Linked DNA regions of Homo sapiens. The protein of the gene in region 5 interacts with the protein of the main gene of each other region in a biochemical or structural test. Each region holds a gene or a part of one and is shown on either strand. Other genes may lie near its edges. The genes, in order: COPG1, GORAB, WBP2, TMED10 and COPB1.

What was found.
Region 1: the proteins of COPB1 (region 5) and COPG1 form a complex in vitro, tested with the Homo sapiens proteins (one study listed by BioGRID).
Region 2: the proteins of COPB1 (region 5) and GORAB form a complex in vitro, tested with the Homo sapiens proteins (one study listed by BioGRID).
Region 3: the proteins of COPB1 (region 5) and WBP2 form a complex in vitro, tested with the Homo sapiens proteins (one study listed by BioGRID).
Region 4: the proteins of COPB1 (region 5) and TMED10 form a complex in vitro, tested with the Homo sapiens proteins (one study listed by BioGRID).

Annotation. Positions count from the first base shown.
Region 1 is NC_000003.12:129,250,721-129,257,114, reverse strand, and holds part of COPG1 (coatomer subunit gamma-1), read right to left. Parts: coding exon 6,381-6,394; intron 4,835-6,380; coding exon 4,754-4,834; intron 4,493-4,753; coding exon 4,421-4,492; intron 4,240-4,420; coding exon 4,160-4,239; intron 2,448-4,159; coding exon 2,372-2,447; intron 2,131-2,371; coding exon 2,038-2,130; intron 1,048-2,037; coding exon 961-1,047; intron 1-960. UniProt on the Homo sapiens protein: The coatomer is a cytosolic protein complex that binds to dilysine motifs and reversibly associates with Golgi non-clathrin-coated vesicles, which further mediate biosynthetic protein transport from the ER, via the Golgi up to the trans Golgi network.
Region 2 is NC_000001.11:170,541,016-170,547,409, reverse strand, and holds part of GORAB (RAB6-interacting golgin), read right to left. Parts: intron 4,920-6,394; coding exon 4,818-4,919; intron 2,706-4,817; coding exon 2,565-2,705; coding exon of another isoform or gene 2,561-2,564; exon of another isoform or gene 1,619-2,560; intron 1-1,618.
Region 3 is NC_000017.11:75,847,845-75,854,238, reverse strand, and holds part of WBP2 (WW domain-binding protein 2), read left to right. Parts: intron 1-2,562; coding exon 2,563-2,671; intron 2,672-4,499; coding exon 4,500-4,635; intron 4,636-5,576; coding exon 5,577-5,669; intron 5,670-6,308; coding exon 6,309-6,394. UniProt on the Homo sapiens protein: Acts as a transcriptional coactivator of estrogen and progesterone receptors (ESR1 and PGR) upon hormone activation. In presence of estrogen, binds to ESR1-responsive promoters. Synergizes with YAP1 to enhance PGR activity.
Region 4 is NC_000014.9:75,168,561-75,174,954, reverse strand, and holds part of TMED10 (transmembrane emp24 domain-containing protein 10 precursor), read left to right. Parts: intron 1-6,394. UniProt on the Homo sapiens protein: Cargo receptor involved in protein vesicular trafficking and quality control in the endoplasmic reticulum (ER) and Golgi.
Region 5 is NC_000011.10:14,492,240-14,498,633, forward strand, and holds part of COPB1 (coatomer subunit beta), read right to left. Parts: intron 2,201-6,394; coding exon 1,971-2,200; intron 1,573-1,970; coding exon 1,403-1,572; intron 1-1,402. UniProt on the Homo sapiens protein: The coatomer is a cytosolic protein complex that binds to dilysine motifs and reversibly associates with Golgi non-clathrin-coated vesicles, which further mediate biosynthetic protein transport from the ER, via the Golgi up to the trans Golgi network.

The DNA.
Region 1 (6,394 bases), on a different chromosome or scaffold from region 5:
AGACCCTGAGCATTGTCATGTTTTGTAAGTCACTGTGTGGGACACCTTAGCCATGAAATCTTGCATTACCCACAACAACCCTGAAGGTAGACAGTTTAATCTTTGCTGACTTGCCCAAAGACTCCTGGCTGGTACTGACAAAGCTAGGCCTGGAGGGCCAGAAGCCCAGAGACTCCCTTTCTAAAGATGTGAGGTCTCATAGTTATTTCCTGTCCTCGATACTCTCTTTTGTTTCCTAAAGGAGCGACATTTGGGGGCAAAGATATGGCAGCTGTGGAAGCCTTCTATGTGGGAAGCTTATCTGGCCCTCATAAGTGTTTTGAGGGGCCACAGCTGGCCCTGAAGACAAGAATCGTGCAAAGGATGAGAAGACAGATGAGAGATAAAGGGAATACATAAACACACAGGGAGCGCCGATAGGCACTCATGACCCAGATGGGTCACATGTTACATGCATGATCTCAGCTCGTCCTTGCTGCTTTGTGAGGCAGTAACCTTCATTCGTATTTTACAGACAAGGAAACCAAGAGCCAGAGAGATAAAAGGAACGGCTGTCCTAGGTCACTGAGGAAGAGTAAAGTGGATGAAAGCCTCATCAAGATAATTCCACACATCATAACAAAGCCAGGCTGGCAAAGGCCTAAATTTAGGCGGCCCTCTGCCTGCCTTGGCCAAGTTTGCCACATCATATGCTCCAAAACAATACTCAGCTGGTTATCAAAATACTTGAATATTTCAGCACCAGCTGGTAAGCAGTCTGTAACCCAAGCGCCCCAAGTGGTACCCTGGATTCTCTAACCCAGGACCTCCTAATTCCTCCCATGATCCAATGACGAAAGGATTAAAGCCTGCTATGGCCAGGGGTCACAAGGATCTCGGTGGCAAGTGTCCATGCCAACTGGCCAGTGCCTTACCACCTGCCTGAGTGTTTTAAATATCACTCCCTTGCTCACATCTCACCTGGACCATGATGTTATCACTGGATGCTGCCTCCTGAGCCTCATTCACCCAGCGCTTGACCACGTCAAAGCTGCACTTCAGCAGGTGCTGTGGGCAACAGGACACATTAAGGGGCAGGTAGGAAGTGTCCCCATCACACATTCTGGGCCCAGTTCTGGTCTTCCCTCAGACACAGCTCAGGGGCTCGCCACTGTCCTGGTCCTCAGAGACCATGGACAAACTCAGGATGCTCCCACCCTCAATGTCCCTCCCCAAGGCATGGGTCAACACCATCCACCCACGACTCTCTTCAATCACCCCAGAGTTTCTTGGCTGTCTTCACTGAGAAGGGTGGGACTCTCAGGCTTACAGATACAGAAATACTTTATTTTGGCCAGGTGCGGTGGCTCACGCTTTGTAATCCCAGCACTTTGGGAGGCCGAGGCGGGTGGATCACTTGAAGTCAGGAGCTCAAGACCAGCCTGACCAACATGGTGAAACTACGTCTCTACCAAAAATACAAAAATCAGTTGGGCGTGGTGGTGCACACCTGCAATCTCAGCTACTCAGGTGGCTGAGGCATGTGAATCGCTTGAGCCAGGGAGGCAGAGGTTGCAGTGAGCTGAAATCGAGCCATTGCACTCCAGCCTGGGCAACAGAGTGAGACTCTGTCTCAAAAAAAAAAAAAGAAGAAAGAGAGGCCAGGCACAGTGGCTCACGCCTGCAATCCCAGCACTTTGGGAGGCCGAGGCGGGTAGATCATGAGGTCTGTAGTTCAAGACCAGCCTGGCCAAGATGATGAAACCCTGTCTCTACTAAAAACACAAAAATTAGCTGGGCACAGTGGCAGACGCCTGTAATCCCAGCTACTCAAGAGGCTGAGGCAAGAAAATCACTTGAACCCCGGCGGCAGAGGTTGCAGTGAGCCGAGATCGTGGCGCTGCACTCTAGCCTGGGTGACAGAGTGAGACTCCGTCTCAATCAAAAAAAAAAAAAGAAAGAAAGAAACACTTTCTTTTTTCCTACTGGAATGTGACTCTTAAATTTTCTTCAATTTTCTACCCCACCCCCAGCAGGGCTCCAGCAGCAACTACACACCAAGGAAGACACGAGGGCAGAGCTGGAGACACTGGGCACCTTGTCCACAATGGCTTGTTTCATGTAGCGCTCAATAGCCTGCAGCATGGTGCTCTGTGGGCAAAAGGAGCAGGGTGGAAGGAGATCCAGTCAGTCCTTGGCAGCTCTCAGGAGTGCAGGAATGGGGGCAGAGATGAGTATGAGGAGGAAGTAAGCGTTTCTCATGTGCTCCTGCACACTGCCTCCACCCCACATCACCTGGCTCAGTGATAGGGGACACCCCAAAGAATGCAAAAGATGATGCCGAGGCCTCAATCAAGAGGCCAGGAAGCAGGGAGGAACCGGCACGACTCACATCAGTGATCTGGCAGAGGGCTCGCACGGCCGGGCCCCGGTAGTTGTCTTCTTTCCCAGTCATGTCTTTTGTTAGGCTGCAGGGAAGAAGGCATTGTCAGCATGCAGAGAGCCTGGGCCTGTTTACTCCTCTCCAGCTCCCAACACCACCCTTGCCCAGATTACTACACGAGCCTCCTAACCAGTGCTCTCCCTCTATTCCTGCCCCTCCAAGCCTAACTCCACACAGCTGCTGGAGGGAGTTTCATAAGACTCAAAACCAAACAGGTCATCCCCCTGCTTTTGCTAAAAAGTTTCCATAGCTTCCTACTGCCAGTGACCTGAATGTAACTCCTTGAACTTCCCTAACTGGCTATGCTCACTCCTCTCCAGCCTTTGCATGTGCTGTTTCCTCAGCCTGTAGCATTCCTCACCCCTCACCTCCACTCTGTCCTACTCTTTTTTTTTTTGAGACAGAGTCTCGCTTTGTCGCCCAGGCTGGAGCGCAATGGGGTGCGATCTTGGCTCATTGCAACCTCTACATCCCGAGCTCAAGCTCTACTGCCTCAGCCTCCCCAGCAGCTGGGACTACAGGCACATGCCACCATACCCGGCTAATTTTTGTATTTTTAGTAGAGAGGGGGTTTCACTATGTTGGCCAGGCTGGTCTTGAACTCCCGACCTTGTGATCCACCCGCCTCGGCCTCCCAAACTGCTGGGATTACAGGCATGAGCCATCACTCCTGGCTTTTTTTTTTTTTTTTTGAGACGCAGTCTCGTTCTGTCACCCAGGCTGGAGTGTAAGTGGCATGATCTCAGCTCACTGCAACCTCCACCTCCCCAGTTCAAGCAATTCTCCTGCCTCAGCCTCCCCAGTAGCTGGGATTATAGGTGTGCGCCACCACACCTGGCTAATTTTTGTATTTTTAGTAGAAACGGGGTTTCACCATGTTGGCCAGGATGGTCTCAAACTCCTGACCTCAAGTGATCCACCCATCGCAGTCTGTGGATTACATTGTGGATACAGTGCTGGGATTACAGGCATGAGCCACTGCGCCTGTCCTGTCCTACTATTTCTTACTCATCCTTCAGGACTCCACTTAGATCATTCCTCTGGGAGGACTTTCGTAATTCTAATCAAGCTGGATGCTCTTCTGGTCTGCTCTCATAGCCCATAATACTTCCGTGATAAACTATATTACACCCTACCTTAATGGCCTGATGCCTGGTTATTTCTCTGTAAATTCTGGGGCTACAGAGGCCATGTCTATCTTTTTTGTTGCTATATCCCCAGAGCTACACACAGGGACTGACAGACAATATTTTCTAACTGAACCTACAAATCAATGTATGACCCCCACAACCTTAAACTGTGGCAGGAAGAAATAAGAGAACTGAGCCCCAGTTCTTAAGGGCAGTGATTACACTTTAGTCACATCTGTCCCTGAATTGCTTAGCTTAAAGCAGACACCAGTCACTTAGTAAGCAGTATACCGCTTGTACTCTCTTGTTTATTTTTCTTGTGTTCTCTCTTTATACTCAAGAAAGTCTTTGGGAAAGTTCTAAGCTGGTTTGGTTGACTAAGAGAAATCAAGAAAAGGAAGCATTTGTGTCCAAGTCAAGGTCAGAGAATTAAAATAGAAACAGCACACCTGGAGGCTGCCATGGGGTGGGCAGTGGTAACAGGGAAGCTGCCACGGGGTGGGCAGCTGGCAATATGCAACCAAGTCTCACTGTCTGGTACACACAAGAAAAAAATGGTCTGTCAATGGAACCCATCAGAAGAGCCACCCACAACCCCATGACTTGCCTGCTGGTGACAATGATGACATCCTCTGCAATGCAAGACATCTCCTTGATGGTCAAGTAGCACATCCGACGGAGTGTGGGCTGGGAGATAGGTGGGAAAAGCCCTATCAGCCCGGGCTCACCAAGGGCCAGAGTTGGGAGAAGATACCTCCTGTCTCCACAAAGGCAGCCCACACTGACTGGTGGGGCCAGCTCTCTTTGGCCCTCCCACCACCTTGTTACAGCTGCCACCTCTCAAGGAAAGCTGGGTTGAGGCACTTACATCATTGGACTGAAAGAGCTTGGTCATGGCAAAGAAGGCCTCGGTCGCTTCCGTGGTCCCCAGGTGCTCCCCCTGTGTTAATCAAGAAAGAAGTCTCAGCTTGGGACAGAGGGTCAGACAGCAGTTCTTTCAGGATCAGCCCACACCAGATCCCCAGACCCTAAAGAGGCTCAAGGGCAACATATGAGACTTGGATGCTGAGGGGACCCAGAGCTGAGCTGTTGTCTACAGCCACACAGAGGCTGTCCAATAGCCTAAGAGTGATCATGATTTGTCCACTCCCCTCCAATCCCCCAGCACCATTCTCCCTACCCGCAAGCTTCACCCTGTTACCTGGTTTATGAGATAAAGAATCTTGGTGAGGATGTGGGCACATTTCCGAGGGTTGATGGGAGTTTCATTAAATACACGGGCCTAAGAAGAAATGACCAAAGATGTTACCTTCTAGCCTAGTTCATTTCCCTTCAAGTATATTCAATGTCTGAGAAGTCTCAGGGTAAACTGACTTGTCTAAACAGGGCTTTCTGGGTATGCAACAAGCTTATTTTCATAAGGAAAGGGTTTGTTTTTCTTTAATCAACTACTAATTATTCTTAGACTCTCGTGTAAATATTAGTTAGGGATGTGCTAACCTATTGACTAGCAGATACTTAGCAACCATCTGCTAACTGGAAACAGAAACAATGAACGACAACAATAAAGAAAGAAGCGGCTGGACGCAGTAGCTCACACCTGTAATCCTAGCACTTTGGGAGGCCGAGGCGGGTGGATCACCTGAGGTCAGTTCGAGACCAGCCTGGCCAACATGGTGAAACCCCGTCTGTACTAAAAATACAAAACTTAGCCAGGCATGGTGGTGGGCACCTGTAATCTCAGCTACTCGGGAGGCCGAGGCAGGAGAATTGCTGGAACCCAGGAGGCGGAGGTTGCAGCAAGCCAAGATCATGCCATTGCACTCCACCCCAGGCTGACACCAGCAAGTCTCCATCTCAAAAAAAAAAAGAGAAGTGGCCGGGCGCGGTGGCTCACGCTTATAATCCCAGCACTTTGGGAGGCCGAGGCGGGAGGATCAAGAGGTCAGGATTCACACCATTCTCCTGCCTGGCCAACATCGTGAAACCTCATCTCTACTAAAAATATAAAAATCAGCCAGGCATAGTGGCGTGCGCCTGTAGTCCCGGCTACTTGGGAGGCTGAGACAGAAAAATTGCTTGAACCCAGGAGGCAGAGGTTGCAGTTGAGCCGAGATCGTGCCACTGCACTCCAGCCTGAGCAACAGAGTGAGACGCCTTCTAAAAAAAAATACATATATATATATATATAAAAAATATATATAATAAAAATAAACAAGTCATGCAAAATCTCTACCTGCATAATGGCCACAGTCTAGCTTAGGTGATAGTTTTAAACCAGTTTCCTTAGCTTTGGAATTAACTTTAAATAGAGAAATTTTTTAAATGTTTAAATAGAGAGGCCAGGCGCGGTGGCTCAAGCCTGTAATCCCAGCACTTTGGGAGGCCGAGGCGGGTGGATCACGAGGTCAGGAGATCAAGACCGTCCTGGCTAACGCGGTGAAACCCCGTCTCTACTAAAAATACAAAAAATTAGCCGGGTGTGGTGGCGGGCGTCTGTAGTCCCAGCTACTTGGGAGGCTGAGGCAGGAGAATGGCGTGAACCTGGAAGGCGGAGCTTGCAGTGAGCCGAGATCACGCCACTGCACTCCAGCCTGAGCGACAGAGCAAGACTCTGTCTCAGAAAAAAAAAAAAAAAAAAAAAAAAAAAGAAGTAAGCATAACTAACTCTCTCCAGAAACAAAGTTTTCCTGTCTTCCAGAAAACTTCCAGGCACAAGTTTTCTCCCGTGTTGCTCTTTAAAACAACACTTTGAATGTGTTGGTATTTCAGTTGCATTGGTGGTGAATATTTATGATGGAAGCTAGAGGGGAGCAAATGTCACTTGCCTCCTGGAGTACCG
Region 2 (6,394 bases), on a different chromosome or scaffold from region 5:
CAGCAGCAGCAGCAACTCTCTCAAATTGGCTCAAAGTGCTAGTCTTCTCAGAGGTGTCTATCCAAACACTGCTCTACAGAAGCCAATTTTAAAGCAAGTTCTGGCCTATTCACTATCCAAGAACCTTTTGTGGACATAGCACTGTACCAAATACTATAGAACTAAGATATCATTTTTATTAAAAAAAGAAAAAACAAGGAAATCTCCCATAAAAACTGACTGTCCTAGGGATTATCTTTCACTTCAAATCTGGACCATAATATTATTTTACCGATCTGTAATTTCTCAATAACCACAAATGCAAGTTTAGAAAATAATACCTTAATCTTACGCATGAACAAGACACACTACGGTTCTAGTCACCAAAGTCTTTGTTTCCCTTTGACTCAACGCAAGAGCTTCGGCTTTTGAAAATAGCAGCACATGGCCAGGCGTGGTGGCTCACACCTGTAATCCCAGAACTTTGGGAGGCTGAGGCAGGCGGATCACCTGAGGTCAAGAGTTGGAGACCAGCCTGGCCAACATGGTGAAACCCCATCTCTATTAAAAATACAAAAAATTAGCCAGGTGTGGTGGTGGGCACCTATAGTTGGGCTACTCAGGAGGCTGAGGCAGGAGGATCGCTTGAATCTGGGAGGCGGAGGTTGCAGTGAGCCAAAATCGCACCACTGCACTCCAGCCTGGGCAATAAGAGTGATACTCCGTCTCAAAAACCTAAAAATAAAAACAAAAATAGTGGCACACAACATCTACTTACATTCAACTACATCAATATTAGTACCATGAGAAACTGTCATCTGTAACTTACTAAAGATTTAAAAATTTACTAAAATTTCATTTAGGATACTTATAGACTATAGGATGTTTTTTCCTTTAGTAATCCCACCTTCTTTGTTGTGGTTCTTAGAAGGCTAAAACTATGACATTTCTTATATAATACTGAATATGAAAAAGCGTCTTTCTCCAGTTTCCACTAGGACAAAATTAAAATCAAATTACTTTTCTTTCTTTTTTTTTTTTGAGACGGAGTCTCGCTCTGTTGCCCAGGCTGGAGTGCAGTGGCGCAATCTTGGCTCACTGCAAGATCCGCCTCCCAGGTTCACGCCATTCTCCTGCTTCAGCCTCCTGAGTAGCTGGGACTATAGGCGCCCACCACCACGCCCAGCTAATTTTTTGTATTTTTAGTACAGATGAAGTTTCACCGTGTTAGCCAGGATGGTCTTGAACTCCTGACCTCGTGATCCACCTGCCTTGGCCTCCCAAAATGCTGAGATTACAGGCGTGAGCCACCGTGCCCGGCCTCAAATTTCAACTGAGGTACCTAGTACTTCTACCTTATAATATGAATTATTCATATAAAAGGCTACAAAGGCATAAAAATGTTCCTCTGGCAAACTTATGTTACAGAGAATAAAATGTGCTACAAATCAAGGCTTAGTTTAATCTTAAATAAAATCTCTGTTATCTCCCTTAATGACCTTATTAATGGAAACCTGGAACCTCTGGTTATCAGCTACTGATGGCATTCTTTTAAGTAGTTAATTAATAAAGACAACTCTAAGTCTAATAGCATATGGTCCAACAACAATTACAAAAGTCACAAGGACAACCACAAGACTCTTTCTTAAACACTCAACAGTTTATTAAAAACCACAATCAAGCATTTCCGCTTTAATAAATTGTTATATAAACATTCTGATGTTGTGGTTTACCCTGGCCTAATGAGGCATTCTGATTCATTTCTAGTGTAACAGAGTAAGATAGAAAACTGAGTCATTAACACAGCATTCCCTTGTGAAAAAAGACAAACCAGGATGATTAAAGCAATGTTGAAAGGGCTGAAAACCCTGAAATTGGACATATTTTTTTGCCCTTTTATCTGTCTGCAAAGTCCATGTAATTCATTACATGTGTTAGTTCATTTTAAAAATACTCCATGGTATTTTTTCTCTTTTAAAAAATGCCAATGGTTGAAACCAAGGAAACATATATTAAACCATTTCATACAGAGTATAATTGAAAGGAAAAAAAAAGAGAAAATATTTCAAATTTCCAAGACAGAGGATATGCTTAAAATATTCATAAGCTTTTAAAAACTAAACTAGATCCTCTTACTCTGATGAAAGCTAAAGTGAGGACTAGACTTCAATCCTATAGGACTATATCAGATATCAAAAATTTTAATGGAAAGAACACAGACTTGGTGTCAGAGTAACAGTTTTGGCGAAACCACTCAGATATTTACTTTGCTAGATGCTGAAAGATGAGCAAAAACACTTCCAAACATTAAATAGCTGAGGGTTTCGCAGCAAAGACTAAAACGTAAATAAATAATGCAAGAACTGCTCTAATGGCACACGAACAAGGTTAACTAGTAGGGCAGAGTTAAGGAAGACTTCACTGAAGAGGAGACACTTGAATTAGCACAAAAGAAGAATAAATACAGCACTGAATGGGGTTGTTTTGAGGCTTCAATGATGATATACATAAAAGCCCCTGGAACAGCTGGCAATAAACATTAATTAAATCATACTCCTTGTTCAGATTCAATTTCCCCAACTCACCGAGCGTATGAATAGTCTAAGCTGGCCTGATCAATCCGGTTCCTGAGAATTCCAATGTCAGCTGACACCATGTCATCTAAAGCCTGCAACTCCTTCTGGATCCGCTTTAGTTTCATGGTCTCTGCCTGAGTTCTTTTGGATCTAGAAAATCAGGTATGTGAGTGGGAAAATAAGAACATTTTAAAACCATGTGTCCATATACAATGTAAGTGAAAAAGCAAGATACTGCATATACATTTATAATTTATATTTTAAAAGTTAGAAAAAAATCAGAAAAATTGAAATAAAGTAAAAGCTGGTTAACATTTGAGTTTTTGAAATTTTATATTTGCATGTTTCATAAAGTAACAAATAAGTCTAAAAAAACTCAGCAAATAGTTCATTTTAGATTGATATTCATTCTGTAAAGAGAACAAACACTAAAAGAATATATCTGTGTTCCCTTTACATTGAAACATTCAACAGAGCTTTCCAAATTTCTAGTCTTTAATTCTTCCTCTTGCTAAGCCCATTTTCATTTGTCTGATACTTACCTGACATTAAGAACAGATAGATGTCTATACTAAACCACACCTCTTTATATATCTGAGAACATCCACTTAGTTTTAACTTTCTTGGGACCCATTTCCCCAAACTTTTATTGCTTTGATTCTTGTTCTCTAGGAAAACTACTAGTTACGAAAATTCTTTATGGAGCTGAACATCAAAACACTCATTTTCCTTATTTAAAAGCACATCCAACCTCATAATTTCTCAATCCCCTCTCCCAAGTACAATATATACTTAAGAAAGGGAACAAACAAATAAAAAAGCAACCCTTTAATCATGATTTCACTCATTTCAAATTTTCACACACATTGTGAAGGAAGAAGAAAAATCCCCACATAAATCCACCATGTTACATAGCACATTCTCTTGATTTCTACTCTTAGGCATTTACCCTTCCTTTCTGCCTACAAAACTTCACTTAACAGTATGATTCTTTTACGTCAAGTACTTCATTGTCCATTTATTAATAGTTCAAACGTTGTATTTCCTTACACTTCTGTTTATACTGGTGCTGTCTAAAATCAAAAGCACTTATGAGAAGAACTGCTGAGCCTGTACATCTTTTTGTAAAACCACAGAAAACAGCCTTCCCATCTCTTAGAAATTGAAGACTACTAAAATGCTTTAATTATTTTTAAATAATCACTTACCAAAAAAAAAAAAAAAGAGGGCACTACTCTTTTATCTGCTGGTTTTTTCCTTTGAAACATAGTAACTCAGTGAGTTGCATTATTTCCTATGCTTCAAGAAAGATCAAGGTGTACCAGTAGTAGAAAAAGAAAAATCACCATTTCTCAACTACACTCACTCCTCTGGCAGACAAAATTCTGAACTACTCTTATACCCATCACCTTCTTCCCTCTTCTCCTGCCCCTACACATACTCTAGCTTCAAGCAGTAACAGTTTGACAGACTTTTCTGGAAGTCTAAAAAGAAAATGTACTTCCTTGCATTTAGTTTTCACTATTCACAACCATGGATATATTGACTAAGTTTAGTTTCCTAAGGCCACAGGAGATTAGACAGAAACTACAAACTCAGCAAGAGTGGTGGGGGATGGGAAGAATGATTCCAATGGGAATGTTGTTGTGTGCGGCTGGTACAATGCAGTAAATGTGAAGGGGCTGCTGATAGACACTGGAAGGTGAAAGAAAAATTGAATCTCACACAGTGCTCATAATAATGACCCTGAGTCATCAATAAAAAGTTAAACTATATCATGTATCTTCTACTTGTGGAGGCGGGGCAAATTATTTAAGAAAAATGCCCATAGGAAATCCAATTAAGATTCATGGGAGTATGTCACTTATGTAGAAAACCTTATTCCTCTACACATCAAATGATTAAGGCCTCCCCACATAAAAATTAAAACTTGCATTTGTTGCTAATTTACATATACTGATAGCTATTTACTGCTTCCCTTATGAATGTGTAGATGGTTAAAACTGGGAGCACTAATGAAGGTCTTTAAAACTGCAACTATATTTACAAATTTAATATGCTCTATGCTTAAAAAGTTCTCTTTAATAAATTATAACTAGTATTTCAGTATCACTTATAAAGCATAATTTGTTTAGTTAGTCTTAAAAGTAATGGTTGAAGAAAAAATATCAGTTTATTAAAAGAGACATGGGAAAACAAATATAACACATGACACAACTGGTTACAGGTTACAAACAGCCTCTCCTGGTTCAGGTGCCTCACCTTTCTGCAATAGCTTTAGCCAAAAGAGCTTTTTTACGTTTATTTTTCTCTTCCATTAGCCGTTGTTCTTGTTGGAGGACTTCCCAACGAGATTTTTCTTGCCTAGGGGGCAAAAAAAGCATAAAAATGAGTTTATGAAAGAAAAAGAAACTGCTACCCTATCCAACACCTTACCAGTCTCAGTCCTCTAAGTATAAAATTTAATCAAGAAGATTTATGTATATGTTCTTTCAAAAGTCCTCTTAAAAGAAACCCATCTGCAGTTCATTATTTTGCTCTAATGGGAACAAAGACTACGATCTAAAGTAAAGAGGCTTACATAAATTGGACCTCTGAAATCCATTATATATATAATCTAGGAATCCACAAACTGGAAGCCAGAATACTGTGGCATGTGTTTAGGAGTACAAAGAAATTTGTGTAAGTTAATTATGTATTATATGCAGAATGGAGATTAATAAAAATTGGTTTGTAGCTGATGTCATATTATTTATACCTTTTAGAGTTTTCTATAAAGTCTCCACCACCTTAACATGTTTCAGACAATAACCAATGTTTATTTCATATATTAATATTTTCTTTCAATTTGCTCACTTTTTCCCAACTCTTAAGACTTTTTTTTGTCTTTCTTTTTTCCTTTTTGTGGAGAACAGGGTGTCGCTATATTACCCAGTCAGGTCTCGAACTCCTAGGCTCAAGCTATCCTCCCGCCTCTGCCTCCCTAAGTGCTGGGATTACAGGTGTGAGCCACTGTGCCCAGCCCAACTTGGACATTTTTAAACAAAGTAAAACACTAAGAGCTAAGACTGGAATGCTGGGCTAAAGAAAAAAATTCAAAGATGTGAAAACATGTATTGTCTTACAATCTGTCCAATTCTAAAATAAATACATTAAAATTTCCCATAAAGTCATGAGCTTGATGTCAACTCAAATTAAACAAGGTATTGGCAAAGCTATTTATTCCTATTACTGTCACTTCTTACAGCCATTATATCACATACCTCTATTCCCAAATCTAGTAGCCCCTTCCAAAATTGTCCTTCTCTCTCCATTTCTACACCTTCCACCTTAGTGCTGGGACTGGTCATTTCTCACTTTTACTACTGCAGGCATCTCCTCACCAGGCGCCTTAGTTCCACAGCTCACTATGCACTCTCTTGCATATGATCTACAATATTGACACCTGGGATTTCTCTAACCTTTATTTTGATTGCGGCCTTTAGCCCTCAGAGAGCTTCATGGTAACTTGCTGCATTAGTGAACTTGCTAGGAAGGAAGGCATCCCCTGCTTCCGATCCTTTCTCATTTCTTTAATTCTCTACTTATTCATCCCCTGCTTCTGCTTCTGATCCTTCCTCAGTTCTGCTTTTTTTTTTTTTTTTTTTTTTTGGGACAGAATCTTGCTCTGTTGCCCAGGCTGGAATGCAGTGGCATGATCTTGGCTCACTGCAACGTCCACCTCCCAGGTTCAAGCAATTCTTGTGCCTCAGTCTCCCAAGTAGCTGGGACTACAGGCATGCACCACCACGCCCAGCTAATTTTTTTGTATTTTTGGTAGAGACAGGGTTTCCCCATGT
Region 3 (6,394 bases), on a different chromosome or scaffold from region 5:
GCCAGCATCCAGCTGCCCTGTGACTTGGGAATGTTTGATGAGTCAGAGGAAAATGCCTAGAGTGACCCAGCATGCTCACTTTCCCTCTATCTTACCCGCTCAGAGTTTCATGGGCCCAGCCTGTTGCTGGTAATTCCTTCTTTTCTCTGAGCAGTACTTCTCTTCTCTTTTTTTTTTTTTTTTTTTTTTTTTTTTAGATGGAGGCTTGCTCTGTCGCCCAGGCTGGAGTGCAGTGGCACGATCTCAGCTCACTGCAACCTCCGCCTCCTGGGTTCAAGCGATTATCCTGCCTCAGCCTCCCCAGTAGTTGGCATTACAGGCACCCGCCACTACACCCAGCTAATTTTTTGTATTTTTAGTAGACATAGGGTTTCACCATGTTGGGCAGGCTGGTCTCGAACTCCTGACCTCGTGATCCACCCTCCTCGGCCTCCCAAAGTATTGGGATTACAGGAGTGAGCCACCGCGCCCAGCCATTTTCCTTTGCTTATACCAGTTGTTTCCCACTTACCCTTCCCCAGTCAGAGAAAGTTGTGATATATGGGGGGAGGCAGAAGACAAACAGAACCGTGTGAACCTTTTTATCATGTAATCAGAGACACCTCACACTGTTTTGTTGCATCTCTGTGTGTGAGTCAGTTCCCAGGCCTGGCCAGCTTTTCGTGCCATTTGGCAACATCTCTGGGGACTGTTTTTCTTTCTGTCTCTGTGGAACTTTCTGAGACAAGAATGTATCTATCCTGCTCGGCCTTCTACCTGGCTTAGGGCTCAGTCCTGCTAAGTAAGGTGTGCCTTCAGCCTGCTGTTTTAGAAAGTGCTTCAGCCTGCTGTCTGAAAAAGTTGTATCTATAACAATTGAAGTGTTAAGTCCAGTGTCCAAAATTTGATAATTAGGCTGGGCATGGTGGCTCACGCCTGTAATCCCAGCACTTTGGGAGGCTGAGGTGGGTGGATCACTTGAGGTCAGGAGTTTGAAACCCGCCTGACCAACATGGTAAAACCTCGTCTCTACTAAACACAAAAAATTAGCCAGGCGTGGTGGCGCATGCCTGTAATCCCAGCTACTTGGAAGGCTGAGACAGGAGAATCGCTTGAACGCAGGAGGTGGAGGTTGCAGTGAGCTGAGATCACGCTATGTTGCACTGCAGCCTGGGCAACAAGAGTGAAACTCCGTCTCAAAAAAATAAAAAATTATAATTAAAATAGTGAACGTTACTCTTCAAGTCGTGAACTCCTTTGACAATGATGAAAGCTGTGGACTCTCCTCCCAGAAAAATGCACATATGACATACGTGATCATCTCAAGGGCTTCATGGACTTTCCTGCAAACCCCGCTTAAGAACCCAGGTTTAAAAGAACCCCGAAGGACGTCCTATTGTGATCTGTACAGTCATCTCTTAGACATGTTTATATTTTAGGCTTGAAAAACAAACCAGCAAAAACAGAACATCTATCACAAGGACTTAAAAGAAAATAGAAGAGTTGGCCGGGCGCAGTGGCTCACGCCTGTAATCCCTGCACTTTGGGAGGCCGAGGCAGGTGGATCACGAAGTCAGGAGATCGAGACCATCCTGGCTAACACGGTGAAACCCCGTCTCTACTAAAAATACAAAAAATTAGCCAGTCGTGGTGGCGGGCGCCTGTAGTCCCAGCTACTTGGGAGACTGAGGCAGGAGAATGGCATGAACCCAGGAGGCGGAGCTTGCAGTGAGCCGAGATCACGCCACTGCACGCCAGCCTGGGTGACAGAGTGAGACTCCGTCTCAAAAAAAAAAAAAAAAAATAAAGAAAATAGAAGAGTTAAGCCAGATTATCTAACTTGCTTGAGGGATGATGGCCTCTTCAGAGCCCTGTAGCTCTGCTACCATGTTGATCATTTGGGGGCTTTATAAGCGGGGTTTGGGAAATTTTACAGAACCCCCAACCTGCTCATTTCTTCCATGGCTATATTAATGGGTTTTTTTGTTGGTTTTTAGTTTTTTTGTAGAGATGAGGTCTCACCATGTTGCCCAGGCTGGTCTCAAACTCCTAGGCTCAAGCGATTCACCCGCCTCAGCCTCCCAAAGTGCTGGGATTACAGGTGTGGGCCACTGCGCCTGGCCCTATGAATGGCTTTATTTATTTATTTGTTTTTGAGACAGAGCTTCTCTCTTGTTGCCCAGGCTGGAGTTCAGTGGCGCCATCTCAGCTCACTGCAACCTCTGCCTCCTGGGTTCAAGCGATTCTCCCGCCTCAGCCTCCTGACTAGCTGGGATTACAGGTGCCCGCCACGGTGCCTGGCTAATTTTTTTGTATTTTTAGTAGAGATGGGGTTTCACCATGTTGGCCAGGCTGGTCTCAAACTCCTGACCAGGGGTCATCCGCTCGCCTCGGCCTCCCAAAGTGCTGGGATTACGGGCGTGAGCCACCGCGCCCAGCCCTATGAATAGTTTTAATGCCGCACTATTGAGAGGTTATGAGAGCTGACGTGCCGGGCAGCTGCTTGGGAGAAAGGCCCAGTGTCTGGGTGACGTCGCGTCTCCATACTGTCTCATTGAGGCTTTTCCTCTTTTCTCATCACAGCATCCTAATGTCCTATGATCACGTGGAACTCACATTCAATGACATGAAGAACGTGCCAGAAGCCTTCAAAGGGACCAAGAAAGGCACTGTCTACCTTACCCCTTACCGGGTGAGTTGCACAGCAGGGCAGTTGGTTGAGAGGCTTGTTGCTGTTGGAGGTGACGTGAGTCTTAGTCTCAGGTCTGCCTCAGCCTCATGAGTCAGGTGGCCTCTGAATCCTGGTGAGTGTTAGTGCTTCACTCTGCCTGTTTCTCTGTCACATGCTCCTGGATTCCAGAATCACCAGGCTCTTTGTGTAACTGACCTGACCACTGGGCAGTGAACCCATGTCAATTCCAGAGCCGCTGCTGCAAAATCTCTATAGAGTTGGATGCAGCCGCTGGCATGACTTGGGCCTGGAGGCCAGACTATTATTATTAATATTTTGTTTTCTGTGAGAGTAGCCCATGAAGCCCTGTGTGTATCCAGAGTGAGAAATCCAGTAAACAGGGTACAGTTGCATGGCACGGCCTCCGGACTGGGCAGAGAGCCCGGTACCACCCCGCAGAATGACAAATGCCAGGCTGCAGAATGGGCCCTGCCTGAGAGTTACCCACGTGGACTCTGAGAGGTTGAGAAATACAAATGGATGTTCTTGGAAAAGGATTGCTGCCTGTGGCTACTCAAGATTTAGACTCAAAGACAGGCTGGTGCGGAGGCTCATGCCTGTAATCCCAGCACTCTGGGAGGCCAAGGTAGGCAGGCCACTTGAACTCAGGAGTTCGAGACCAGCCTGGGCAACATGGCAAAACCCCATCTCTACAAAAAATACAAAAATTAGCTGGGTGTGGTGGCACATGCCTCTAGTCTCAGCTACCCGAGAGGTAAGGTGGAGAATAACTGGAGCCTGGAGAGGTTGAGGCTGCAGTGAGCTGGGATCATGCCACTGGATTCTAGCCTGGGCAACAGAGTGAGACCCTGCCTAAAAAAAAAAGACTTAGACTCAAAGACAGCTGGAAGAAGAGGAGCACATTTTCAAGTTTTAATCTCCATGACTTCACAAAGACAGGAGAGTCTCAAAACCCCATCTCTGGAGGCTCAACTTGGCACCTTCAGTCACAGATAAAAGTCGTGGGTTTAAAACCCTGGCTGGGGCCGGGTGCGGTGGCTCATGCCTGTAATCCCAGCACTTTGGGAGGCCGAGGCGGGCGGATCATGAGGTCAGGAGATCGAGACCATCCTGGCTAACACGGTGAAACCCCATCTCTCCTAAAACTACAAAAAATTAGCCGGGCATGGTGGCGGGCACCTGTAGTCCCAGCTACTCAGGAGGCTGAGGCAGGAGAATGGCGTGAACCCGGGAGGCGGAGCTTGCAGCGAGCCAAGATCGCGCCACTGCACTCCAGCCCAGGCAACAGAGTAAGACTCCATCTCAAAAAAAAAAAAAGAAAAGAAAAGAAAAAATAAAACCCAAGGGTTTCTCCAGGCACAGGCTCCAGGAGAGCTCTTGTTGCTGTTTATAGCCCCCCTCAATGGGAGCTAGCGACCTACTGCACCATCATTCTCAGTTCTGGAGAGTTCAGGCTGGAGACCCCCCTCTTTCAGGAACCCATCCCTGCCTTGCCTCTGCCTGTCCTTCCCTAGCTTCGTAGGCCCCTTCACTTAGGCAACACTGCCACCACCCCACCACGTCAGTGACAAAGCAGTCTGCCCTGCTCATAGATACTATCTGTGACCAGCACGTTTTTCTCCCGTGTGCGTGAGCTTGGCCTCTCCAGGCTGCGGTGAGCCCTTTCCCTTTCCAAAGCTCTCTCCAGGAGTGTCTGGCACAGAGAGAGCCATGGGGCTGCTGGACCCTGGCACTGGGAGAGGATTCGTCACTCCCAGGAAGCAGGCGGGAAGCATGGCAGCGTGGGCTGTGCTTCTAGTACTGATGGCCTCACCCTCTCTCCCTGCAGGTCATCTTTCTGTCCAAGGGCAAGGATGCCATGCAGTCCTTCATGATGCCATTTTATCTCATGAAAGACTGTGAGATCAAGCAGCCCGTATTTGGTGCAAACTACATCAAGGGAACAGTGAAGGCGGAAGCGGGAGGTAGGTGATGGGAACTCAGGGACACGCATGGGGCCTGCAGGGAGGTGTCCTGGGAACCTCTGACTGCCGCCGTGGGGGCGTCCCCTTCAGACCCTTATCGCCCTAGCCATGACCTCTTCCCAGCTCTGGGCTGCCAGCTGGTGGGGTTTGATTGCCAAGAGGTGGGGAAAATGCTGGCATGAAAGACAGCAGCTCAGATCAGCTTTTCAGAGCGTGAAGTCTGCAGAAGCCTGCGGACTGAGTCAAGATGCTTAGTGCAACTTGGCGAGCGCATACAAATTTTAGACTCAGGAAGGAGCTGCATCAGGTTCTTGAGAGGGGCCTTTTCATGAGAGCCAGGAAGAGGCAGCTGCCTCTGGGAAGCCAGAGTCACCCTGCTTTGGGGCTGGCTTTTTGGCAGGCCCCAGAGACCTCTGCATTGAACTTGCCTTCCCCTTGACACCCAGCCAGGCCCGCCCTTGCTATTGAGACACTCTTGGTCCCCCTTTGGGCAGAAGCCAGGCTAGAGGGGCCGGAGTCTGTCCTTGGGCCCCCTTAGGACGAGAGGTCTGCTCTGAATTTTAAGGTCGGCTGTTGCTGAGTGGGCTTGTTCCTGTGAAGCTGCCGAGTGCTTGACTGGGGGCGGAGAGAAACCTTGATGTGGCCTTGGCACCCGTGTACATATTGGGCCAAGGGTGGGAGGACAGGCTTGTTCCAGGAAGGAGAGGCCATTGTTCCAAAGGGGGAAGCGAGTACAGCAGGGCCAGGCCAGGCTGCAGTGCTGGCTCCTATGCAGGCAGCAGGCTGGAAACCATGGCACCAGGAAGTCCCCATCACAGTGCAGGCCCAGCCCCCGCAGGCCTCCCGGGCGTTGGATGAAGTCCTGGAGAGGAAAACAGCCATCTCTTTGGGCATAAGTTTTCTTTTCCTGTGCTGTTTATTCACTGTCCTTCCCCTTTCAGGTGGCTGGGAAGGCTCTGCTTCCTACAAGTTGACTTTCACGGCAGGGGGCGCCATTGAGTTCGGACAGCGGATGCTCCAGGTGGCATCTCAAGGTATCCAGGCTCCGAAGATTAGGGGCTAAAGACACACTAAACATGTAGGGGTTTGGTATGAGTTTGCTTCCTTTTCGTTTTGCTTTTTCAAGAACTCAAGAGGTAAGTGTTTGGGCACCAGGCTGACCAGGCCTAGGAGTTGGGAAGGAAAGCTGTCATTGGCATCAGCTCTGTCCTGTACCTCAGAGACTGCGTTTCCCTGCCTGGGGCAGGTGGATGACGTTTTGACAAAGCTGTTTGGACTCAAGGACACTTTACTATGGCCTCATAAAACAAACACTAAACCAACCATTCGACTGCGGTTCCGCAGCCATTGAAAATGACCGAGGGATGGGCCAGCAGACATCCTCCGCCAGCTCACTCCTACCCCAGCCCTGAGCCTCCCTCCCGGCCTCTGTCCACCCTCCAGCCTTGCCCTTGACCTCCCTTGCCTTCCCCTGGCTCTGACCTCTCCCGTCCTCTCTCATCCCTGACCAAGGTGGCCCCCCGAGTATGGGTGGAGGGTGGAGTGGGATGGACAGAGGATGTCTGCGGGGCACATTCCTGAGACCCAGTAGCTCCCATCTGCAGGCAGCGGGGCTGCCCTCTCCCCGCCCCAAGGCAGGCCACGCTCATTTCTCTTTCCCCTTGTACTCGTAGCCTCCAGAGGTGAAGTCCCCAGTGGAGCCTATGGCTACTCTTACATGCCCAGCGGGGCCTATGTCTATCCCCCGCCAGTCGCCAAT
Region 4 (6,394 bases), on a different chromosome or scaffold from region 5:
AATTCTCCTGCCTCAGCCTTCCGAGTAGCTAGGACTACAGGCGCCAGCCACCACACCCAGCTAATTTTTGTATTTTAGTAGAGATGACGGTTCACCATGTTGGCCAGGATGGTCTTGATCTCTTGACCTCGTGATCTGCCCGCCTCGGCCTCCCAAAGTGCTGGGATTACAGCCGTAAGCCACCGCGCCTGGCCTCGTTTTTACTTTTTAAAAGGGTTTCAGATATAATAAGACCATAACTTATGTTAAAGTAGTGGAACCCAGTAGTGTGGTAATACATGTAATTTATTTCTACTTTATTTGGGAGAGACAAACTATTTTCAGGGCAATTAATCTGTGACCCATCATTTTATTATTCTGTTTGGGTATCAAACTCTCTACCCAGGAAAATAGTGATGGCATGATTTTAGAAGCTTAGATATAGTGTTTCCGGGGTGGGAGATCATGCTTCCAACTCTTCAGAGGATGTTCATGGACTCAGGGAATTTCAGCAATGAAAGAGACCTTGCTCTCATCTCGTGTTGCTGTCTGATTTGTTCTTATATTTTAAAGCCCTTCAGTGGCTCACTATTGCTTATTGATAGTTTAAATTTCTCAACATGCTTTGTTGTGCTCTTCATGATCTGTTTCTGAGCTATACGTGTGGTCACTTCCCACTTTGCATTCTACATGGAGCCACCCTGGACAGTACCCTGAACTCACTTATTTTCTGAACTGTTTTTGTTTATGCCTTGACCTACTTACTAGACTGTTAGTATCCTCAGGGTAGGAACTATTTTCAGGTTCATCTTTTCTAGAATGCCAAGCATGTTACCTTGCTTCTAGTAAGTACTCTATAAATAACAGGAACTGTAGTTTAGCATGGCCTTATGGGAATTACATTGAATTTAGGGCTGCTGAAGGCACCTCAACAGCAGGACTTTAGGCCGGGCTTGGTGGGTCATGCCTGTAACCCTAACTCTTTGGGAGGCCGAGGCGGGTGGATCACCTGAGGTCAGGAGTTCAAGACCAGCCTCAGCAACATGCTAAAATCCAGTCTCTACTAAAAATACAAAAATTAGCTGGGCATGGTGGCGTGTGCCTGTAATCCCAGCTACCCGGGAGGCTGAGGCAGGAGAATCACTAGAACCTGGGAGGCAGTGGCTGCAGTGAGCTGACACCGTGCCACTGCACTCCAGCCTGGGCAACAGAACAAGACTCGGTCTCAAAACAAAACAAAACAAAGCAAAACAAAAACCAGCAGGACTTTGTGCACACACCCTAGCACTTTACTATCACTCAGTTGCTCTCCTGTGTCTGCTCTGTTCTTTTGCTACTAACCAGCTTAATGGAACCACAAGGGTCCTAAACCCAAATGCCAAATAGGTAATATCATTGAATAAATTGGACCAGGTATTTTAAAAAAAAAAGCAGTGATGATAAATGGGAGAATAATTGGACGTAGTAGAAACTGTTAATTAGGGGTGACCAATACTTAGTTCTTGATGAGACTTGCCATGCAAGCATGTGGGCCTTTTTGCCACATCTGATTTTTCCCTTCCCCTCCCCTCCCCTCTTCCTTCCCTTCCTTCCTTTCTTCCTCCCTCTCTCCCTCCCTCCCTCCAGTGGCACCATCACAGCTCACTGCAGCCTTGACCTCCTCAGGGCCCAGGTGATCCTCCTACTTCAGGCTCCTGAGTAGCTGGGATTACAGGCACATGCCACCATATCCGGCTAGTTTTCATATTTGTTTGTAGAAATGGAGTTTCGCCATGTTACCCAGGCTGGTCTCGAACTCCTGGGCTCAAGTGATCCGCCCATCTCGGCCTCCCAAAGTGCTCGGATTACAGGCATGAGCCATTGCACCTAGCCCACATCTGATTTTTCAAATGAAATAGGAACACCAGATTTTGATGTGAAAGCTCCAGACTTTTAAATTTCATCAGCCAGGTTTCAGCACTGCAGAGCTTGGGAGCTCCCGGCCCACCCGAGGGCCATGGATCTCATTGTCCTCACCACTGCTTTGCCACTCCATTTTCCTCAATAAAATGGTTTGGCCCCCTAAAAATTAAAAAAAAAAAATTTCACCAGCCAATTCAGATTGGTTCGGGCATTGATTTGTTTTCAGTGTTATAGGGAATAGTATAGTGAGTTCACCTTTCTACCCATTACTCATATTCACCAATTATCAGGATCTTTCCACACGTGTCATCTTAACTGCTTCTGCCATATCATTTCATGCTAAATTGTATTAAAGTAAATCCCAGATGTCATGTATTTCATTCCTGCCTACTTCAGCATGCATCTCTTTAAAAATATAAACCACAATGTTACGTGGCTAATCACGCCTCACAAAATGAACAATGATGGCCAGGCGCGGTGGCTCATGCCTGTAATCCCAGCACTTTGGGAGGCCGAGGTGGGCGAATCACGAGGTCAGGAGTTCGAGACCAGCCTGACCAACACGGTGAAACCCCGTCTCTACTAAAAATTTAAAAAAAAATTAGCTGGGCGTGGTGGCACACATCTGTAATCCCAGCTGCTCTAGGCTGAGGCAGGAGAATCTCTTGAACCTGGGAGGCGGAAGTTGCAGTGAAGTATGATTGTGCCACTGCACTCCTACCTGGGCTACAGAGTGAGACTCTGTCTCCAAAAAAAAAAAAAGAACAATGATTCCTTGATACCCAGTCCATATAGTATGATCCCACTTGTCTCAAAAATATCTTTTGAAAGTTAATTTGTTGTCTCTCTCAAGTGTCTAATCTAGAGCAGTCTCCTCTTCCTCTCACCTCCTTTTTTATCCTTGCAATTGAATTGTTGGAGTCAATTGCTCTTAAAAGAATGTACAGCATTTCGGAGTTGTCTTTTGCTTCCTAGAGGTGTCTTTTAACCAGTTCTTCCACTATATTTTTTGTAAAAGGAATCAGCTGTAAAGATGTAACCAGAGGTTCAGCAAACCACCATGGCACACGTATACCTATGTAACAAACCTGCACGTTCTGCACATGTACCCCTCCAGAACTTAAAGTGTAAAAAAAAAAAAAAAGATGTAACCAGATTCAGGTTTAATCTTTCTGTCGAGGGTGTCACTGCAGGAACACACAGTACTTTTTGTGCCCCTTATTGCTGCTGCTAAGATTGATAAGTGGATTAAGGTGTGTCTTAGTGTCCTATTGCTGCTGTAACAAATTACCACAGATTTATGGCCTAAAACATCAGGGATTTGTCTTAATCGTTCTGAAGGTCAGAAGTCCTAAAATCAGGGTTTTGGCAGAGCCATGTTTCTTCTGGAGACTTTTTGGGAGTGGGGTGGGGATCAGTTTTCTTGCCCTTTCTAGCTTCTAGAAGCCACTTGTATTCTTTGGCTCATATCTCCTTCCTCCATCTTTAAAGCCAGGCTGGGCGCGGTGGCTCTCGTCTGTAATCCCAACGCTTTGGGAGGCCAAGGCGGGCAAATCACTGAAGGTTAGGAGTTTGAGACCAGCCTGGCCAACATGGTGAAACCCCGTCTTCACCAAACATACAAAAATTAGCTGGGCATGGTGGTGCACACCTGTAGTCCCAGCTACTCAGGAGACTGAGGCAGGGGAATCGCTTGAACCTGGGAGGCGGAGATTGTAGTGAGCCGAGATCGTGCCACGGCACTCCAGCCTGGGTGACAGAGCGAGACTTTGTCTCAAAAAAAAAAAAAAAATTAAAGCCAGTAGCATAGTATCTTTAACTCTCTCCCTTTCCTTCCCTTTTCCATCCTCTGCTTTGTTCCTCACCACCCCTTCTTCCTCTCTTCCTCCCTCCTTCCCCGGCTATCATCATCTCATCTCATTCTCTTACTCACCTGCCTCCCTCGTTCCCTTATAAGGACCCTTGTGATAATCTTCTCCACCTCAAGACCCTTAATCTGATTTAATCACATCTGCACAATCCCTTTTGCCATGTAAGATAACACATTCGTGGGTTCTAGGGATTAGGATGTGGACATCTTTGTGTGTGGGAGGCATTTTTTTCTCTACCCGGGTGGTAATAGCCCAAAGCCTTCATTGTAAAGTTTCCCATTAACCTTTCACTTAGGAATCCACTGATGACTACTGTGTGCATTTATTATGTCATTAAGGTTGTGAAATGATGACTTTCTAATTCCGTTACTCCTTCCATATTTATTAGCTGAAATTATTCTTAAGGAATTAATATCATCTGATTATCCTAAAATTTATCATTCACATTGGTAGGATAAATGCAGAATTTATTTCTTCTAATTGATAATTGTCAGAGTAAGGAATTGTTGCCCTTGTCATTTTCAGTGTTGTCCAAGAGTTTTTGGGTTTTTTTTTAAAGTATTTTACTGAACTCTTTTTAATTGTTGGCTTCAACTTTTAGAATCATTGTGTTTTAGGCAGTTGTTTCCATTCTTTATGCCCAATTTGTCCCTTTGGTTCCTTCATATTGGCTCCTGTATTTTTTCAACATAATCCTGTTAGGTTTTGATAGCATCCTTGTTTTCTGGCACAACAAAGTGTTCTAGGCTTATCTTGTATATGTCTATCCTCTGACCTCAGAACAACTGTTTCTCTAAGGAATTCTAGTTCCTTTTTGTGGGGATTGGTATTTGGAGACCACAAGCTAGGTGTCATTTTTGAAAATGTAATATACCATGCAAGCCACAGAACACATTTGTGAGCAGATGCAGCCCATAGCGGCTTTCAGTCTTTTTCATGGTGTCCGTTCACTTAGTTCCACTTTTTCTTTTTTTGTTGAGATGGAGTCTCGCTTTCACCCAGGCTGCAGTGCGGTGGTGCAATCTTGGCTCACTGCAGGCTCTGCTCCCCGGGGTTCACACCATTCTCCTGCCTCAGCCTCCCAAGTAGCTGGGACTACAGGCGCCCGCCACCACGCCCGGCTAATTTTTTGTATTTTTTGTATTTTTTGTATTTCACCGTGTTAGCCAGGATGGTCTCAATCCCCTGACCTCATGATCCGCCCGCCTCTGCCTCCCAAAGTGCTGGGATTACAGGCATGAGCCACCACGCCCGGCCGTTCCACTTTTTCTTATATTTTGACGACTGCTTCAAGGATTCTCCCTATGCATCATTTTAGCTTCTGGAGTGCAACTCCTAAGTGCCAGAGCTCCTTTTCATATGGTAGGCCACATTCTAGGTCTCAGTTCAGCCAATGGATTGTCTTGTCTTTGGTCATATTTCCACCCCTGCTTTAGGCAGCTGTGGTTTGATTTGAGGTAGGAGGAGAACTGGAGACTGGTGCAGAACCTGGCCAGCTGAGCTTAGCATTTGGTGGTTGTGCTGAATGAGGCAGTCTTTTTTTTGAGATGGAGTTGCGCTCTTTTTGCCCAGGCTGGAGTGCAATGGCATGATCTCGGCTCACTGCAACCTCTGCCTCCCAGGTTCAAGCAATTCTCCTGCCTCAGCCTCCCAAGTAGCTGGGATTATAGGCGCGTACCACTACTCCCGGCTAATTTTTGTATTTTTAGTAGAGACGGGGTTTCACAATATTGTCCAGGTTGGTCTCAAACTCCTGACCTCAGGTGATCCGCCCGTCTCCCAAAGTGCTGGGATTACAGGCGTGAGCCACTGTGCCTAGCCTGAGGCAGTCTTTCTTATAAGGGTCTCTGTGAATATAGTGCCTTGGTTAATCTGACTGATTCACCTTCTTTCTGTCTAGGAACATCTCAGTATCCAGTGAATGCACCTATGTTATCATATACCACTCTGTGTTGCAGTTGTGTATTTGCCCATCTCCTGGGATAAACTATAAGCTGCTTGAACAGAGACTAGGTTTCATTCATCATTGCAATGCTTGTCTAAAATAAGGCCTGGCACATAGTAGGACCTTATCCTAAGGAATTAGTGAACAGACGAGCAAGCACTGTCTTTGCCTCATCTCTGATCTTTCCCTCTTCCATTCTCTTTATTTGCTTCCTCCCACTCTGACTCTAGCTATACTGAACACCTTACAGTTCTTTGAATATAATGTTCTCTTTACCTGGATCAATGTTTGACTTTCTGTGTCCCCTATGTGTCCCATTGGCTTATAACTTCTTTTTTCCCCCTCACCAAAAGTTGTATGAAAAGATACTGTAGTACCATTACATCCTGTTTTACATGGCACTTTTCATGTAGTGTAGTGTTTACTTTGTGAACTCTTTAATGTCTTACTCATCTTTGTGTCTTTAGTTTAACGTACACATTGTTGTATAACTGAGTTAAACATCTTAGTCTTCTTGAGAAGCCTTGTGGTATGGTAGAGACTAGATCTGAAGTAAGATAGATTTGGTTCAGATCCCAGCAGCTCCACCATTTAAAGGTTATGTGGGTCTTGCAGGGATTACTTAACCCTTCTTCTCTGGTCCTGTTTCTGTAATATGGGAATCGTAGAGCTCATAAACTTGTTAGAAGGACTGATT
Region 5 (6,394 bases):
TGGCCTAATTTTTCTATGTGCACTATAGTTTAAATTCTGAAATTTGTGTAGTCTGTATGGTAACATTAAAGGAACTCACCCTACATTATTATTATTATTATTATTTTTATTATTATTTTTTGAGATGGAGTTTTGGTTTTGTTGCCCAGGCTAGAGTGCAATAGCGCGATCTCGGTTCATCGCAACCTCTGCCTCCCAGGTTCGAGCAATTCTTCTGCTTCAGCCTCCTGAGTAGCTAGGACTACAGGCATGTGCCACCACGCCCAGCTAATTTTGTATTTTTAGTAGAGACGGGGTTTCTCCATGTTGGTCAGGCTGGTCTCGAACTCCCGACCTCAGGTTATCGGCCCGCCTCGGCCTCCCAAAGTGCTGGGATTACAGGCATGAGCCACCACGCCTGGCTCATCTACATTATTAACCAGAATACCACTTTCCTTAATGGATAAAATCTAACAGTAAGATAACTATGAAATTATATCTTAACCAACAAATCTACTAAAGTACAAAGATGCTTATAAAAATTACATTGTAGTCCTTAATAAATTGATACCTGTGACTGTAAAAACTGAGCATTCTAGCTTCATCTAACTGGTTCCTTAAATTGGTTTAAAAATCCAAAATCTCAGCCGGGCGTGGCAGCCTGCACCTACAATCCCAGCACTTTGGGAGGCCAAGGCGAGTGGAACACTTGAGGTCAGGAGTTCGAGACCAGCCTGGCCAACATGGTGAAACCCCATATCTACTAAAAATACAAAAATTGGCTGGGCGTGGTGGTGGGTGCCTGTAATCCCAGCTACTTGGGAGGCTGAGGCAGGAGAATCACTTGAATCCGGGAGGTGGAGGTTGTTGTGAGCCGAGATCGCGCCACTGTGCTCCAGCCTGGGCAACGAGAGTGGAACTCCATCTCAAAACAAAACAAAAACAAATAAAAATTCAAAATCTTCAGCTTTCTAAGAATTGGACTCAGTTATAACTGTAGCCCTTCTCATTTAAAAAGTTCCTTCCTCAAAGCTTCTGACAGTAAAAAGACCGACATTCCACAAAACGAATTCTAAAACAAGGACCAAAGTTAAAAGCCTATAGAGGCTAAGCAAGTGAACATATAAAGTGGCTTGGAGTAATACGGTTGAGAATGACAAGCACTGTCATAAACTGTAAAGTATATAACTTATTTAAAGGGGGTTACTGTTATACAAGTTCAGCAGAATGTTGTCTTGTGGAAGCTAGGAACAGCGCTGCCAGATCTTTTGACTTTTCAATGTTCATAATAAAAAATACAGTGCTGGCCATACAAAATATATCTTCAAGCTATATTCAGTCTGCAAGCAACCACTTTGGAACCACTAGTCTAAAAGACTAAACAGTACTCACAGAATGAAGCCAAAGCAGTATCTTTATTTACCTATAGATGGTATAGATGGCCAAAACAGCATTTCTTCTAACATAGCTGTGTCGATGCTCCAAACATGCACGAATAGCTGGCATTAAAGGTTCTAGCAATTCTGCTTCTTTCAATTTGCAAAGAAAACGAAGAGTAGATCCTCGAATAAATTCATTAGGATGTTGAAGATCCTGATATAAAAATTAAAATATGAAATGCTGAGTTTCAGCTTTTTACAAAAAGAAAATTTTAATGCAAAACTTTCCAATGGAAAAAAAATACGTTTGAGAAAAAACCTAGATTACCGACAATTTCCATCATATTCTTGTTGACTGAAGCAATTTTTACCTATCTCATCAATGTCTTATATGTGTGTCACTGTTTTTTAATTAATATATACACATAAAATGCATAGAAAATGTCTGAAAAGTGACAATAAAACTTTTAAAAATAACTCTTTTACAATTCCAAATCTCTACAACTTACATCTTATCAAAGACTCAATTTTAACAATTAAAACACAGCCCATTCTACCAATTTTACATTTAAATTCAAAGCAATATTCAGAAATAATTATGATTTGGTTTACCTTTCTGTATGCATCACATACAAGGATCATCTCATGTAAAAGTCTCCCATCTGGAGTTGTTTTAGGAACAATTTCCCAAAATACCAGAAGTAATTTCTTGATAGTGTGATCCTGAAGAGGTAGCACAAAACGAATGATGGTCATCAGAAGTCCAGGAAGTTTTTCACCATTCAGAATCATAATGATTACTTTCTTCAAAGCTTCAGTCTTTGACTTTACATCTCCTTTTTCTGAATCAAAAATTTTTTTAAAAAAAAGCACAATTATTTCAAAAGAAAATTCATCACATAAATTTAAAAGCAATTAACAAAATAAAATGTACCTTCTTACTTCAGTATCAGCAATGGTAATAAAAGTACAAACCCAAGTGACAAGGTTCTCCACCTGGTTCTCCACCAAATAATCTGTCTTTGCTCAAGTCATTTATCTCTGGAAATCAGACTCTTTATATATAATATGAAGGCGCTGGATTAGATTTCTGGTTCCTAACCAATTGAGTTAATGCAGGCTCCATGAATCTACAGTCATACCAAGTAAACGTGTTTCAAAACACATATAGCTATTTTTCAAAATGTAAATACATACTATTAATTGATTTTGAATTCAAAACAGCTTTTAGCTATTTGTGTGCATTTTAACAAAGTTAAAACTACTATTATGGGAGGATAAATATGTAACTTTTTTAACATTAGAAAGAGAAACGTCATACTCAAAAAGGCTGAAAACTAAAGTAGTGGATTATTTCTAAAATCTCATCATAGTTCTGCAGGCAGGCTGTAAAACTTTAGAATCTTTCTTAAGATATCATCTGGAAAACTGGGAGGTAATTCAAATGTTCTAGATTAGTAGTCATTATTTAGAATTAAGGATGACACATTAAAGATAAAATGCTAGTTTACTGTTATTTAGCCTAAAAACTCTGCAACATAAAGTATTTTACGCAAAACTATCTAAAATTTCACACCATTATCATTGCATACTGAAGAATTTATAGTACTAAAAATCTTCTGGATCCAAAACTCAAAGGCAGAGAAGTATGTAGTAGCACACTGTACTACAACTGTTTAGATCATCAAAATAAATGAATTATCTTGGGAAGGGGAGAACAAAGAATGATTACAAGTCTTCAATAACCTTAGGGCCATTATGAGGAAAAGAACTACAACTAATGGGTAGTAGTTACCGGGAACCAGATTTGGGCCTAAATATGAGAAATACATTTCTAATGATTAGAGCTAAGCGGCTATGAAACAGAGTTCTGAGCGTCAGATGCGGTGGTTCATCTGGCCCACAGAACTCTTCATTTAATAGCCACTTAAAATTTTTGTATTTTTACTAGAGATGGGGTTTCGCCATGTTGGCCACGCTGGTCTCGAACTCCTGAAGTCAAGTGATCCACCTGCCTCAGCTTCCCAAAGTGCTGGGATTACAGGCATGAGCCACCATGCCCAGTCTCAACTCTTCTTAATGGCAAAAATATACATTAAACTGGAGAGTATGTATTTATTTATTGGTTGGAGGAAGGTAGCTAAGGCAGCTTCAATTAAGACTAGGGCATTGTTCCAACTAAGGGCAGATTTTATTCTTTACCTTCCTAGCTATAACCTTAGGTATCCTGAGGATCTAACAATGAAAATTTTTAAATTATGAGGAAAAACACTAATGAATGTATTCACTATTTTGCATTCAACTATCCTACATGAACATGAAAAAAGGGAAATATATGTGGCTTATGTATATAATGGTATCATTTTAAATATCATAAAACTGGGTTTCTTTTCCCTTCTCTAAAAATAGACCTCAATAGAAACCTAGTATTAAGTAACCTAGAATCAGGAGGTATTCCATTACTGCTGATTAAGAAGTGGGAATAGGCAAGTAAAATATTAAGTTTCTTTTCAAACTGCAAACTATCTTCTAAAAGATCCTTTCTATATTTGAAGCATAATTTTCACTCTGCTCTGTTTAAACAATATTTATCAGTTTAAGTTGTATTTATTTTTAGCAGTTCAATTAAACAAGAATCATTACTTTGGAAAGCATATTAATTATAAATTTTTTTTTTCTTGACAGAATCACTCACAAAAAGGAGACACGGTATACATTTTTAAAATTCAGAAATATGATAAATTTAGTAAAGTTCCAGGACACAAAATCAACATACAAAAATCAGTAGCATTTCTATATGACAACAGTGAACAATCTGAAAAAGAAATTGAAGAAGTAATCTAATCCCATTTACAATACCCACAGATAAAATTAGATACCTAGGAATTAATTTAACCAAATAAATGAAAGATTTCTACAATGAAAACTATAAATACTGATGAAAGAAATTGAAGAGAACATCAACAAATGGAAAGATATTCCATGATCATGGATTAGAAGAATCAGTATTGTTAAAATGTCCATACCACCCAAAGCAATCTAGAGTCAATGCAATTCCCATCAAAATACCAATGACATTCTTCACAGAAAAAAAAAAAAAATCCTAAAATTTATATGGAACCACAAAAGACCCAGAATAGCCAAAGCTATCCTAAGCAAAAAGAACAAAACTGAAGGAATCACATTACTTGACATCAAATTATCCTACATAGCTACAGTAACCAAAACAGCATGGTACTGGCATAAAAACAGACATAAAGACCCATGGAAAATAACAGAACCAAGAAACAAATCCATACACCTACAGTGAACTCATTTTGACAAAGGTGCCAAGAACATACATTGGAGAAAAGACAGTCCCTTCAATAAATGGTGCTTGGAAAACTATGTGCAGAAGAATGAAACTTGTCCCCCATCTCTCAACTTACACAAAAATAAAATCAAAATGGATTAAAGGCTTAAATCTAAGACTTTAAACTATGAAACTACTACAAGAAAATATTGGGAAAAATCTCCAGGACGCTGGTCTGGCCAAAAATTTCTTGAATAATACCCCACAGGCACAGGCAACCAAAGCAAAAACGGACAAATGGGATCACATCAAGTTAAAAAGCTTCCGCACAGCAAAGGAAACAATCGACATACGTGATGAGACAACCCACAGAATGGGAGAAAATATGTGCTAACTACCTATCTCACAAGGGATTAATAACCAGATATGTAAGGAGCTCAAACAACTCTACAGGAAAAAAAAAAACTCATAATCTGATTTAAAAATGGGCAAAAGATTTGAACAGACATTTCACAAAGACATACAATTGGCAAACAGGCATATGAAAAGGTGCTCAACATCACTGATCATCAGAGAAATGCATATCAAAACTACAATGAGATATCATCTCACCCCAGTTAAAATGGCTTTTATCCAAAAGACAAGCAAAAACAAATGCTGGAGAGGATGTGGAGAAAAGGGAACCCTCGTACACTGTTGGTGGGAATGTAAACTAGTATACCCACTATGGAGAACAGTTTGGAGGGTCCTCAAAAAACTAAAAACAGGGGTACCATACGATTCAGCAATCCGACTACTGGGTATATATCCAAAAGAAAGGAAATGAGTACATCAAAGAGATATCTGGACTCCTATGTTTGTTGCAGCACTGTTTACAACAGTCAAAACTTGAAAGCAACCTAAGTGTCCACCAACAGATAAATGTATAAAGAAAATGTGGTACATATACACAATGGAGTACTATTCAGCCATAAAAAAAGAATGAGATCTTGTCATTTGCAAAAATATGGATGGAACTGGAGGTCATTATGTTACATGAAATAAGTCAGGCATAGAAAGACAAACTTCACATGTTCTCACTTATTTGTGGAAGCTAAAAATCAAAACAAACTCACGGAGACAGAGTAAAAGGATGGTTATCAGAGGTGGGAAGGGTAGTGGTAGGGAAGTGGAGATGGTTAATGGGTACAGAAAAAATGAGTTAGACCCGATATTTGATAGCACACAGGGTAACTACAGTCAATAATAATTTAATTGGACATTTAAAAATAACTGAAAGTGTAACTGGATTGTCACACAGAAGACAAATGCTTGAAGGGATGGATACTCCATTTTTCCATGTGATAATTATGTATTGCATGCCTGTATCAAAGCATTTCATGTACCCCATAAATATATACATCTACTGTGTACCCCCAAAAATTAAACATTACAAAAAGTTCAGAAATATAGTTGTTTTCTTATTTGCAAAAATGCATAAAAAATGAAAAGGTAAACTTTTCTGGAAAATACATGTTTATTCCAGTGTTCACCTAATTGTTTGGGTGGGTAATCCAAAGAACAAAGTTCTTTTGGTTTTACAAGCTAAGTAACATGAAGTTAAGTGCACGATGGAATTAAGATATTCCAATACACATCCTCAACCTGTTGCCTAGAGAAAATAATCAGCCACATTAATATATTGAAGTCTACAAAAATTATGACATTTTGAGGAATATCTAAACTATTACAATTTCTTTAGGTT